Regions from separate parts of the Homo sapiens genome. Here regions 1, 2 and 4 are each linked to region 3. Evidence: fine-mapped expression QTL. A gene starts in region 3. Each other region holds a variant in brackets. All regions are shown on one strand. Distances are from middle to middle. Region 1 overlaps MAST1 (microtubule associated serine/threonine kinase 1). Region 2 overlaps MAST1 (microtubule associated serine/threonine kinase 1). Region 3 holds the start of DNASE2 (deoxyribonuclease 2, lysosomal). Region 4 overlaps ZNF878 (zinc finger protein 878).

What was found. PIP is the estimated chance that this variant, and not a neighbour inherited with it, causes the effect.
Region 1: its variant is the best candidate, but not a certain one, in a credible set for the expression of DNASE2 in monocytes (TOPMed, PIP 0.63).
Region 2: its variant is the best candidate, but not a certain one, in a credible set for the expression of DNASE2 in monocytes (CEDAR, PIP 0.77).
Region 4: its variant is the best candidate, but not a certain one, in a credible set for the expression of DNASE2 in whole blood (TOPMed, PIP 0.87).

What each region holds. Positions count from the first base shown.
Region 1 is chr19:12,848,755-12,851,438 of GRCh38, forward strand. The region is part of intron 7 of MAST1 (microtubule associated serine/threonine kinase 1); the gene reads left to right. Among named protein-coding and RNA genes, the nearest start is that of MIR6794, 2.2 kb to the right of the region's middle. The variant G/T (reference allele first, on the strand shown) is at 1,379.
Region 2 is chr19:12,858,698-12,861,381 of GRCh38, forward strand. It overlaps MAST1 (microtubule associated serine/threonine kinase 1), which reads left to right. Exons shown (of 26, transcript NM_014975.3): 12 at 1-42. Among named protein-coding and RNA genes, the nearest start is that of MIR6794, 7.8 kb to the left of the region's middle. The variant CA/C (reference allele first, on the strand shown) is at 1,129.
Region 3 is chr19:12,879,959-12,882,642 of GRCh38, forward strand. DNASE2 (deoxyribonuclease 2, lysosomal) reads right to left here and starts at 1,491. Exons shown (of 6, transcript NM_001375.3): 1 at 1,332-1,491; 2 at 1,014-1,194; 3 at 844-922. The coding sequence starts at 1,417. RefSeq lists enhancers at 1,022-1,649, 1,309-1,418 and cis regulatory regions at 1,313-1,873, 2,613-2,684.
Region 4 is chr19:12,048,034-12,050,717 of GRCh38, forward strand. The region is part of intron 1 of ZNF878 (zinc finger protein 878); the gene reads right to left. Among named protein-coding and RNA genes, the nearest start is that of ZNF878, 3.6 kb to the right of the region's middle. The variant CAGG/C (reference allele first, on the strand shown) is at 1,217.

The DNA.
Region 1 (2,684 bases), 31 kb before region 3:
CGAGACCAGCCTGGCCAACATGGCGAAACCCCGTCTCTACTAAAAATACAAAAATTAGCTGGGCGTGGTGGTGGGCGCCTGTAATCCCAACTACTTGGGAGGCAGAGGCGGGAGAATCGCTTGAACCTGGGAGTCGGAGGTTGCGGTGAGCCGAGATCACACCATTGCACTCCAGTCTGAGCAACAAGAGTGAAACTCTGTCTCAAAAATAAATAAATAAATGAAATAAAATAAAATATTAAACTCTACTCACATTTATCACCCACTTTCTCCTCAGTTTCTCCTTGACACTCAGCACCATCCATCATACTGTGTATTTTTGCTTATTTTATTTCATGTCTATCCTTCTCCAATGTCAGCCCCATAGTTGGTGAGGGTGGGGGGGTGGAGTTGTCTGTTCTGTCCACTGCTGTGTCCCTGCTGTTTGGAACAATACCCAGCACACAGTAGGTACTCAATAAATGTTGGGTAAATTGATGCTTGAATGTCCCTTTGCAGTGGCATGCACCTGTAGTCCCAGCTAGCTACTTAGGAGGCTGAGATGGGAGGATTGCTTGAGGTCAGGAGCTTGAGACCAGCTTGGGCAACATAGCAGGACCCCATCTCTAAAACAATTTAAAAAATTTAAGCCAGGCGAGGTTGCTCACGCCTTTAATCCCAGCACTTTGGGAGGCTGAGGCGAGCAGATCACGAGGTCAGGAGTTTGAAACCAGCCTGGCCAATAAGGTGAAACTCTGTCTTTACTAAAAATACAAAAAAGTTAGCCGGGCTTGGTGGCACGTGCCTGTAATCCCAGCTACTCAGGAGGCTGAAGCAGGAGAATCGCTTGAATCCGGGAGGCAGTGGTTGCAGTGAGCCGAGGTTGCGCCACTGCACTCCAGCCTGGGCAACAGAGTGAGATTCTGTCTCAAAAAAAATAAAAATAAAAATAAAAATAATTAGCTAGGTGTAGTGGCACACACCTGCTGTCCCAGCTACTTGAGAGGCTGAGGCAGGAGGATCACTTGATCATTCATTAATTCCACCAATATTTATTTATTTATTTATTTTATTTTTTTTGGAGACAGAGTCTCACTCTATCCCACTGGGCTGGAGTGCAGTGGTGCGATTTTGGCTCACTGCAACCTCCACCTCTCAGGTTCAAGCCATTCTCCTGCCTCAGCCTCCCGAGTAGCTGGGATCACAGGCACCCACCACCATGCCTGGCTAATTTTTGTATTTTTAGTCGAGGCAGGGTTTCACCATGTTGGCCAGGCTGGTCTCTAACTCCTGACCTTAGGTGATCCACCTGCCTCTGCCTCCCAAAGTGCTGGGATTACAGGTGTGAGCCACCATGCCTGGCCCCCACCAATATTTATTAAGCACCTACTATGGGCCT[G/T]GCACTAGCCTAAAAGCTGGGAAATCAACTGGAAATAAAACAAAAATTCTTGTCTTTGGAGAGCTGACATTCTATTAATAGCAGGAAGAGACAGAAGATAAACAATAGGCGTTAGAAGCTAACCCCTGTAATCCCAGCACTTTGGGGAGCTGAGACAGGAGGCTTTCTGGAGCCCAGGAGTTGCAGACCAGCCTGGGTAACATAGCGAGACCCTGTCTCTACAGTAAAACAAGTCAAACAAACAAAGACCCAATAGGTATTAGGGCTGAGACCAGGACCAGGGTAAAGCAAGTAATTATTTCTTCCCCCAGAACATTAAATTAATTTTTGAAAAACTTGAAAAGTAGATAAATGAAAACCCAACATTATTTTAAGTTTACATATTTTATTTATAACCAAGCCAGAATGTGTTATAATTTTACTGTCCTGGTTTTAATGAAAGCAAACTCATCAATAATACTATTTTCATTGAAACCATTAGACATTTTCAAAGACACATTAAAACACATATAGGTTGGTGCATACTTTTTTTTGGCTCAAGTTACAATATGGCTAGGCACAGCCTGTTGGATTCTGTCTTTATTTAATTTTCTTTTTCTTTTTCTTTTTCATTTGAGATGGAGGACTCTCTATGTTGCCCAGGGTGGTCTTGAACTCCTGGGCTCAAGCAATCCTCCTGCCTCAGCCTCCTGAGTAGCTGGGATTATAGGCATGTACCACCACATCTGGCTTAAATTTTGATATTTTGGCTTATGATAGATTTTTGGCATTAATTTTAGGCTTTTCAAGTATTGCAATAAGATATTAGTTTTTTCTTTTCTTTTTTTTTTTTTTTGAGACAGTCTCACTCTGCTACCCAGGCTGGAGTGTAGTGATGTGATCTCGGCTCACTGCAACCTCCACCTCCCTGGTTCAAGCGATTCTCTTGCCTCAGCCTCCCAAGTAGCTGGCATTACAAGTGTGTGGCACTATACCCAGCTAATTTTTGTACTTCCAGTAGAGATGGGGTTTTGCCATGTTGGGCAGGCTGGTCTCAAACCCCTGACCTCAAGTAATTCACCCTCCTCTGCCTCCCAAAATGCTGGGATTACAGGCGTGAGCCACTGTGCCCGGCCTCTTTTTCTTTTCTTTTTTTCTTTTTTTTTTTTTGAGACAGGGTCTCTCTCTCTGTCACCCAGGCAGGAGTGCAGTGGTATAATCAGCTCACTGCAGCCTTAGCCCCCTGGGCTCAAGTAATTCTCCCACTTCAGCCTCCCAGGTAGCTAGGACTACAGGCACACACTACCACACCTGGCTAATTTTATTA
Region 2 (2,684 bases), 21 kb before region 3:
AGACTCGGCGCCACCTCTGCATGGTCATGGAATATGTGGAAGGTGTGGCTGCCTGCGGGGCTGCAGGGAAGATGGGGCCGTGCTCACTGGTCAGGGCTGCGGGGTGGCCTGCCTGAGCCGCAGTCTCCATATTGATTAGTCGGCCTGTATGTTTATCCATCTATTTATTTCTCCAGTCATTGATTTGTCCATCCATTCTACCTATATATTTATTCAGTCATCTATTGGTTTATTTGTTTTTCATTTCATTCAGCATAAAAACATTCAGTCTGACCCATTATCCATCCATCTATCCTTCTATCTACTGATGTGCTAATCCATCTGTTTTTCCATCCATACATCCATGAACCTGTTTTTATTTATTTATTTATTTATTCATTTATTCATTTATTTATTTTTTGAGACAGAGTCTTGCTCTGTCACCCAGGCTGCAGTGCAGTGGTGCAATCTCGGTTCACTGCAACCTCCGACTCCCAGGCTCAAGCGATTCTTATGCCTCAGCCTCCCGAGTAGCTGGGATTATGGGCCTGTGCCACCATTCATGGGTAATTTTTCTATTTTTAGCAGAGACAGGATTTCGCCATGTTTGCCAGGCTAGTCTTGAACTCCTGACCTTAAGTGATCTGCCTGCCTGGGCCTCCCAAAGTGCTGGGATTACAGGCATGAGCCACTGTGCCAGGCCTATTTTATTTTATTTATTTATTTTTGAGACAAGATCTCACTCTGTTGCTCAGGCTGGAATGTAGTGGTGCGATCACAGCTCACTGCAGCCTCAAATGCCTGGGCTCAATCAATTCTCCCACCTCAGCCTCCCAAATACCTGGGATTATAGGTGCGGACCACCACACTCGGCTAATTTTTGGGAGGCCAAGGTGGGGAGATCACAAGGTCAGGGGTTCAAGACCAGCCTGGCCAACATGGTGAAACCCTGACTCTACCAAAAATACAAAAATTAGCCAGATGGCACACTCCTATAATCCCAGCTACTCACGTGGCTGAAGTGGGAGGATTGTTTAAACACAGGAAGCAGAGGTTGCAGTAAGCCGAGATCGTGCTGCTGCACTCCAGGCTAGGCTGAGATCATGCCATTGCACTCCAGCCCTGGCAACTGAGCAAGACCCTGTCCCG[CA/C]AAAAAAAAAAAAAAAAAGTTTTTTGTTTTTTGTTTTTTTTTGTTCGTTTGTTTTGTTTTTTATGCAGTCTCCCTGTATTGCCCAAGTTAGTCTCCAACTCCTGGGCTCAAGCAACCGTCCTGCCTCAGCCTTCCAAAGTCCTGGGATTACAGGCACGAGCCACCGAGCCCATCCCATATACCTGTTTATTAATCCACCTTTCCATCCATCCCTCACATCCCGCAATTTGTCTTTGTGGTTGTCCATCTGTTTATCCATCCGTATGTCTGTTTACCATTATACACCTATTTTTCTTTTTTTTGGGGGGGACGGCGTCTTGCTCTGTCTCCCAGGCTGGAGTGCAGTGGCGCAATCTCAGCTCACTGCAAGCTCCACCTCCTAGGTTCACACCATTCTCCTGCCTCAGCCTCCTGAGTAGCTGGGATTACAGGTGCCCGCCACCATGCCCGACTAATTTTTTTTGTATTTTTAGTAGAGACGGGGTTTCACCGTGTTGGCCAGGATGGTCTCGATCTCTTGACCTCATGATCCGCCCACCTCGGCCTCCCAAAGTGCTGTGATTACAGGCGTGAACCACCACACCCGGCTTATACACCTATTTTTCCTTTTTCTTTCTTTCTTTTTTTTTTTTTTTTTGAGACAGAGTCTTGCTCTGTCACCAGGCTCGAATGCAGTGGCGCTATCTCGGCTCACTGTAACCTCCACCTTCCAGGTTCAAGTGATTCTCCTGCCTGAGCCTCCCGAGTAGCTGGGATTACAGGTGTGTGCCACCACACCTGGCTAATTTTTTGTATTTTTAGTAGAAATAGGGTTTTCACCATGTTGGCCAGGCTGGTCTCGAACTCCTGACCTCAGGTGATCCTCCCACCTCAGCCTCCCAAAGTGCTGGGATTACAGGCGTGAGCCATAGCTTGCGGCCCATATATTGTTTTTAATCCATCCGTGCATGTATTCACCCAAATGTTAATCCATCTATTGTCCAAAACCACACATGCTGTGGCTATTATGACACATACATGATCCCTGGGGCCTCAGCTGTGCCTCCTCCAAGCCTTCCAGTCAACCATCCAGTCACTCAACGAACACCTCCTCATCATCTCCCTCGTGTCACATGCTGTGCTAGGTGCCAGTGACACAGAGGAGACCCAGGCACAGACATCTCCCCGCCATGGAGATTCCATTCTGGTCTGTATAGACAGACAATAAACAAGCAGAGCAAGCCAAAGAGATAAGGACATTTATTTATTTATTTATTTATGGAGTCTCGCTCTTTCACCCAGGCTGGAGTGCCGTGGCGCAATCTTGGTGCACAGCAACCTCCATCTCCCAGGCTCAAGGATTCTCATGCCTCAGCCTCCTGAGTAGCTGGGACTAAAGGCGCGCCTCCACCATGCCCAGCTGATTTTTGTATTTTTAGTAGAGACAGGGGTTTCACCAGGTTGGCCAGGCTGGTCTTGAACTCCTGACCTCAGGTGATCAGCCCACCTTGGCCTCCCAAAGTGCTGGGATTACAGGCATGAGCCACCATGCCCAGCCAGGGCATTTCATAGTGAG
Region 3 (2,684 bases):
GCTGGGCATGGTGGCGCACACCTGTAATCCCAGCTACTCCAGAGGCTGAGGCAGAAGAATCGCTTGAACTGGGGAGATGGAGATTGCAGTGAGCTGAGATTGCACCACCGAACTCCAGCCTGGGTGATGGAGAGAGAGTGCCGCAAAAAAAAAAAAAAAAAAAAAAAGCCAGGCGTGGTGGGGGGTACCGGCAGGCCCAGTACTTGGGAGGCTGAGGTAGGAGGATCACCTGAGCCCTGGGAGGTCAAGGCTGCAGTGAGCTGTGATACTGCACTCCAGCCTAGGTGACTGGGTGAGACCTTGTCTAAAAGAAAATAAAATAGGGGAAATAGATGCCCAAGGTCTGACAGGGGAGATCTCCCACCCCACTATGGAGGTCAGGGGTTAGCTTGGAAAAATGCATAGGAACTCGGCTGGGCAGGGTGGCTCATTCCTGTAATCCCAGCACTTTGGGAGGCCAAGGCGGGTAGATCACTTGAGGTAGAAACCAGGAGTTCGAGACCAGCCTGGCCAACATGGTGAAACCTCGTCTGTACTAAAAATATGAAAATTAGCCTGGTGTGATGGTGCGCCTTTAATACCAGCTACTTGGGAGGCTGAGACAGGAGAATTGCTTCAACCCCAGAGGCAGAGATTGCAGTGAGCCAAGATTGTGCCACTGCACTCCAGCTTGGGTGACAGAGCGAACTCCCACCGTCTCAAAAACAAAGAAAAAAAAAAGTTGGGGGGAATAGATGCCCAGGGTCTGACAGTGCAGATCTCCCCGACCACCCCATGCACGTCAGGGGTTACCTTGGAAAAATGGGACCCGAGTCTCTCCCCAGCCCCCAATCCAGGCCTCACCCTTCGTGTGCCCACGCATGGAAGAGTCCTGAGCCTTGCTGGGTTGAGGCGGTTGGTCATTGTAGAGCAGGAAGGCGAGCTGCGGGCGGATAAACGGAGGCAACGTGAAATTCCTCCCAGGCAGGGCAGCCCTAGAGTTTCGCCCCTAGTTGGCCCGGGGCCCCCTTCACCTGGCTGGTGTTGCTCCGGTACAGCGGCTGCAGGCTTCGGCCCACGGCCCCCTCCGGGCTGTTGATGAGTGCCCTGCCGTCCCGCCAGCCTCCGGAGCTCTCGTCCAGATACTTGTACTGCAGCCCTCTCTGCGCCGCCTCCCCGGACCCTCTAAGAGCTGGCAGCTTGTAGACCACGAACCTGGAGGTCGGAGAATGCACAGAAATAGGAGAGAGGGAAGAGAAGGCACCCCAGGGTTCCCCGAGGAGGTAGCCATCCCGGTTGAGTGACCGCAGCCGGACCCCGGGGCGATGGTAGGCCCCCCGCTGCGCACTCACCAGTCTACAGGCTGCCCGGAGTCCCCGTAGCAGGTCAGGGCCCCGGCGGGGACGCACAGCAGCGCTGCCAGCAGCAGCGGGATCATAGCTGCTATGGGGCTGAGATCCAGGAATCTGTGTCGGGACTGCGGGGCGCTGGGTTACATCAGAGGCCAGGACTGGCACCTGGCGCCTTTCACTTCCCTAAACTTGCCTGGGAACCGGGGCGGGGACATCACGAGGGTACAGACTCCTCCCCCGAGACGCGATGCTGCGTTTTGGAGAGGCAAAAGGCAACGCTGAGTCTGCCCAGACCACGCCCACGACGGGCCCGGCGCTCCAGCGTCTCCTGGAGCCTGGCCACCGTTCCTTTTCGTGGTAGCTAATCCCAGCCCACGCTCTTCTGTCTGACCCAACTCCCGCCCGGGTTTCTGGATCAGGCACAAGTTTGTATTTTATTTTTTATTCCAGCCCTACAACCTGGGTCCAACTCTTGGGACCTTTGTTCTTCCTCTTTTTTTTTTTTTTTTTTTTTTTTTTTTTTTGAGACGGAGTTTCACTCTTGTCGCCCAGGCTGGAGTGCAATGGCACGATCTCGGTTCACTGCAACCTCCGCCTTCCTGATTAAAGCGATTATCCTGCCTCAGCCTCCCGAGTAGCTGGGATTACAGGCGCCCGACACCACGCCCGGCTAATTTTTGTAGTTTTAGTAGAGACGGGGTTTTTCCATGTTGACTAGGCTGGTCTCGAACTCCTGACCTCGTGATCCACCAGCCTCGGCCCCCGAAAGTGCCAAGATTGCAGAAGTGAGCCACTGCGCCCCTTAAGAAGCATTTGTGTTCCAGTGTATCTTCCCCTTTTTCTTTCTTTTTTTTTTTCCTTCCTTTTTTTTTTTTTTTTTTCCCGGACAATATCTCGCTCTGTTGCCCAGGCCGGAGTGCAGTGGCGCAATCTTGGCTCACTGCAACCTCTGCCTCCCCAGCTCAAGTGATCCTCTCACCTCAGCCTCCCGAGTAGCTGGGATCACGGGCACATGCCACTATGCCCAGCTAATTTTTGTAGTTTTTTTTTTGAAACACGGTTTCACCATGTGGCTCAGGCTGAACTCCTGAGCTCAAGGGATCCACCTGTCTTGCCTCCCAAAGTGCTGGGATTACAGGCATGTAATCCACGCCACCCAGACTCTCCTTTTTCATTCTGCACGTTTTCTCCAGGATCCCCTGAGCTAGCAAAGAGGTGACTGTATGTTTGTTTTTTGTCGTTTTGAGACAGGATAATGGTTTCTCACCCAGGCTAGAATGCAGTGACTCCATCACAGTTCACTGCAGCCTCAACCTACTGGGCTCAAGAGATCTTCCCAGGTAGCTGGTACTA
Region 4 (2,684 bases), 830 kb before region 3:
TCCCATTAAGCAGTGAAATGCATAAGTAAACTGGGCAACCCATGACTCAACACAGTGGCATGTTTGCAACAGAATGAGGCAAAAAGTCAGAAACAAACCCTTTTGGTATAACATGAAAGGTACATTAATTGCAATACTAAGTTACTGGAAACTCCAAACAGCCAAAATTCTACTTTGTGATAAAAGAAAATATGGCAGGCCTGGGCTGGGCGCGGTGGCTCATGCCTGTAATCCCAGCACTTTGGGAGGCCGAGGCGGGTGGATCACGAGGTCAGGAGATTGAGACCATCCTGGCTAACACCGTGAAACCGCATCTCTACTAAAAATACATAAAACTAGCCGGTCTTGGTGGCGGGCGCCTATAGTCCCAGCTACTCGGGAGGCTGAGGTAGGAGAATGGCATGAACCCGGGAGGCGGAGCTTGCAGTGAGCCAAGATCGAGCCACTGCACTCCAGCCTGGGCGACTGAACGAGACTCCATCTCAAAAAAAGAAAAAAAAAAAAGAAAAAATATGGCAGGCCTGGCACAGTGGCTCACACCTGTAATCCCAGCACTTTAGGAGGCAGGCACAGATGGATCACCTGAGCTCAGGAGTTCGAGACCAGCCTGGCCAACCAGGTGAAACCACGTCTCTACTAAAAATACGAATATCAGCTGGGCATGGTGGCAGGCGCTTGTAATCCCAGCTACTTGGGGGGCCGAGGCAGCAGAATCACTTGAACCTAGGAGGTAGAGATTACAATGAGCCAAGATCGTGCATTGCACTCCAGCTTGGGCAACAGAGCAAGACTCTGTCTCAAAAAAAAAAAAAAAGAAAAGAAAAAGAAAAGAAAAGAAAGAAAGGCTGGGCGCGGTGCCTCAGCACTTTGGGAAACTGAGGTGGGCAGATCACAAAGTCAGGAGTTTGAGACCAGCCTGGCCAATATAGTGAAACTCCATCTCTACTAAAAATATAAAAATTAGCTGGGTGTGGTGGTATGCACCTGTAGTCCCAGCTACTCGGGAAGCTAAGGCAGGAGAATCGCTTGAACCCAGGAGGCAGATGTTGCAGTGAGCCGAGATCACGCCACTGCACTCCAGCCTGGGCGAGAGGCAGCTCCGTCTCAAAAAAAAAAAAAAAAAGATAATACAGCTACAAAGAATAACAAAAAGAAGGCTGGGTGCGGTGGCTCATGTCTGTAATTCCAGCACTTTGGGAGGTGGATCACCTGAGGT[CAGG/C]AGTTCAAGACCAGCTCAGCCAAAGTGGTGAAACCCCATCTCTACTAAAAATACAAAAATTAGCCAGGTGTGGTGGCAGGTGCCTGTAATCCCAGCTACTTGGGAGGCTGAGGAAGGAGAATCGCTTGGACCCAGGAGATAGAAGTTGTAGTGAGCAGAGATGGTGTCACTGCACTCCAGCCTGAGCGACAGAGCGAGACTCCCTCTCAAAAAAAAAAAAAAAAAAAAAGAATAACAGGCCGGGCACAGTGGCTCACACCTGTAATCCCAACACTTTGGGAAGCCAAGGCGGGTGGAGCATGAGGTCAGGAGTTCAAGACCAGCTTGGCCAACCTAGTGAAACCCCATCTCTACTAAAAATACAAAAATTAGCCAGGTGTGGTGGCGCATGCCTGTAATCCCAGCTACTCGGGAGGCTGAGGCAGGAGAATCACTTGAACCTGGGAGGTGGAGGTTGCAGTGAGCTGAACTCACGCCATTGTACTCCAGCTTGGGCAACAAGAGCGAAACTCCATCTCAAAAAAAAAAAGAATAACCAAAAGAATCAAAATTTTGACCACCTTTGTGTGCCATAGTTAGATGACATCAAAGAAACACACCAGAACTGCCCAAGGACTATTCATTTTCCTGGGTGGTGTTCCCAAGTATATTCTTACTGACATGGCATCCAATTTTAAAACATCCAATTTTGGCCGGGTGCGGTGGCTCATGCCTGTAATCCCAGCACTGTGGGAGGCCAAAGCAGGCAGATCACCTGAGATCAGGAGTTTGAGACCAGCCTGGCCAACATGGTGAAACCCTGTCTCTACTAAAAATACAAAAATTAGCCAGGTATGGTGGCATGCACCTGTAGTCCCAGCTACTTGGGAGGCTGAAGCAGGAGAATCGATTGAACCCGGGAGGTGGAGTTTGCAGTGAGCCAAGATTATGCCAGTGCACTCCAGCCTGGGCGACAGAAAGAGACTCCGTCTCAAAAGTAAATAAATAAATAAATAAGAAGCAATTAAACTGAACTGGCTATAGAACACTAAGACCCTTCACAAGCATACTGAAGCCAAATTCAAATCCAATTCACATAAATTTCTAATCTGTGGCCTGAGGAAACAATATCACTAATGACTAATTTATAGGGAAATGAAATTTAGGCTTAACCAGGCACAATAGGTCAATTAATCTCTGATTACATAACCAAAAGTTTCACCTGTACAGAATGTGAAAATAGGTGATTCAAAAATTTAAGCTGCTGGAACTCTAAATTATCTTGAGGTTTAAAGGAATGCCATTCTGGGGTTGAGACACCTCACAGGCAGCGGTAACAGAGCCAGCCAGGGAACCTTCCATTCCCTGATTACAGATTAGCTTTCTTTCTTACCTATATTGTTTTGTAAAATATTTTAAATGACAAGCAAGTCAGGAAAGACCCCTTCCCTCTTAAGGATTGATTTCATTATAGACTAACTTCCCT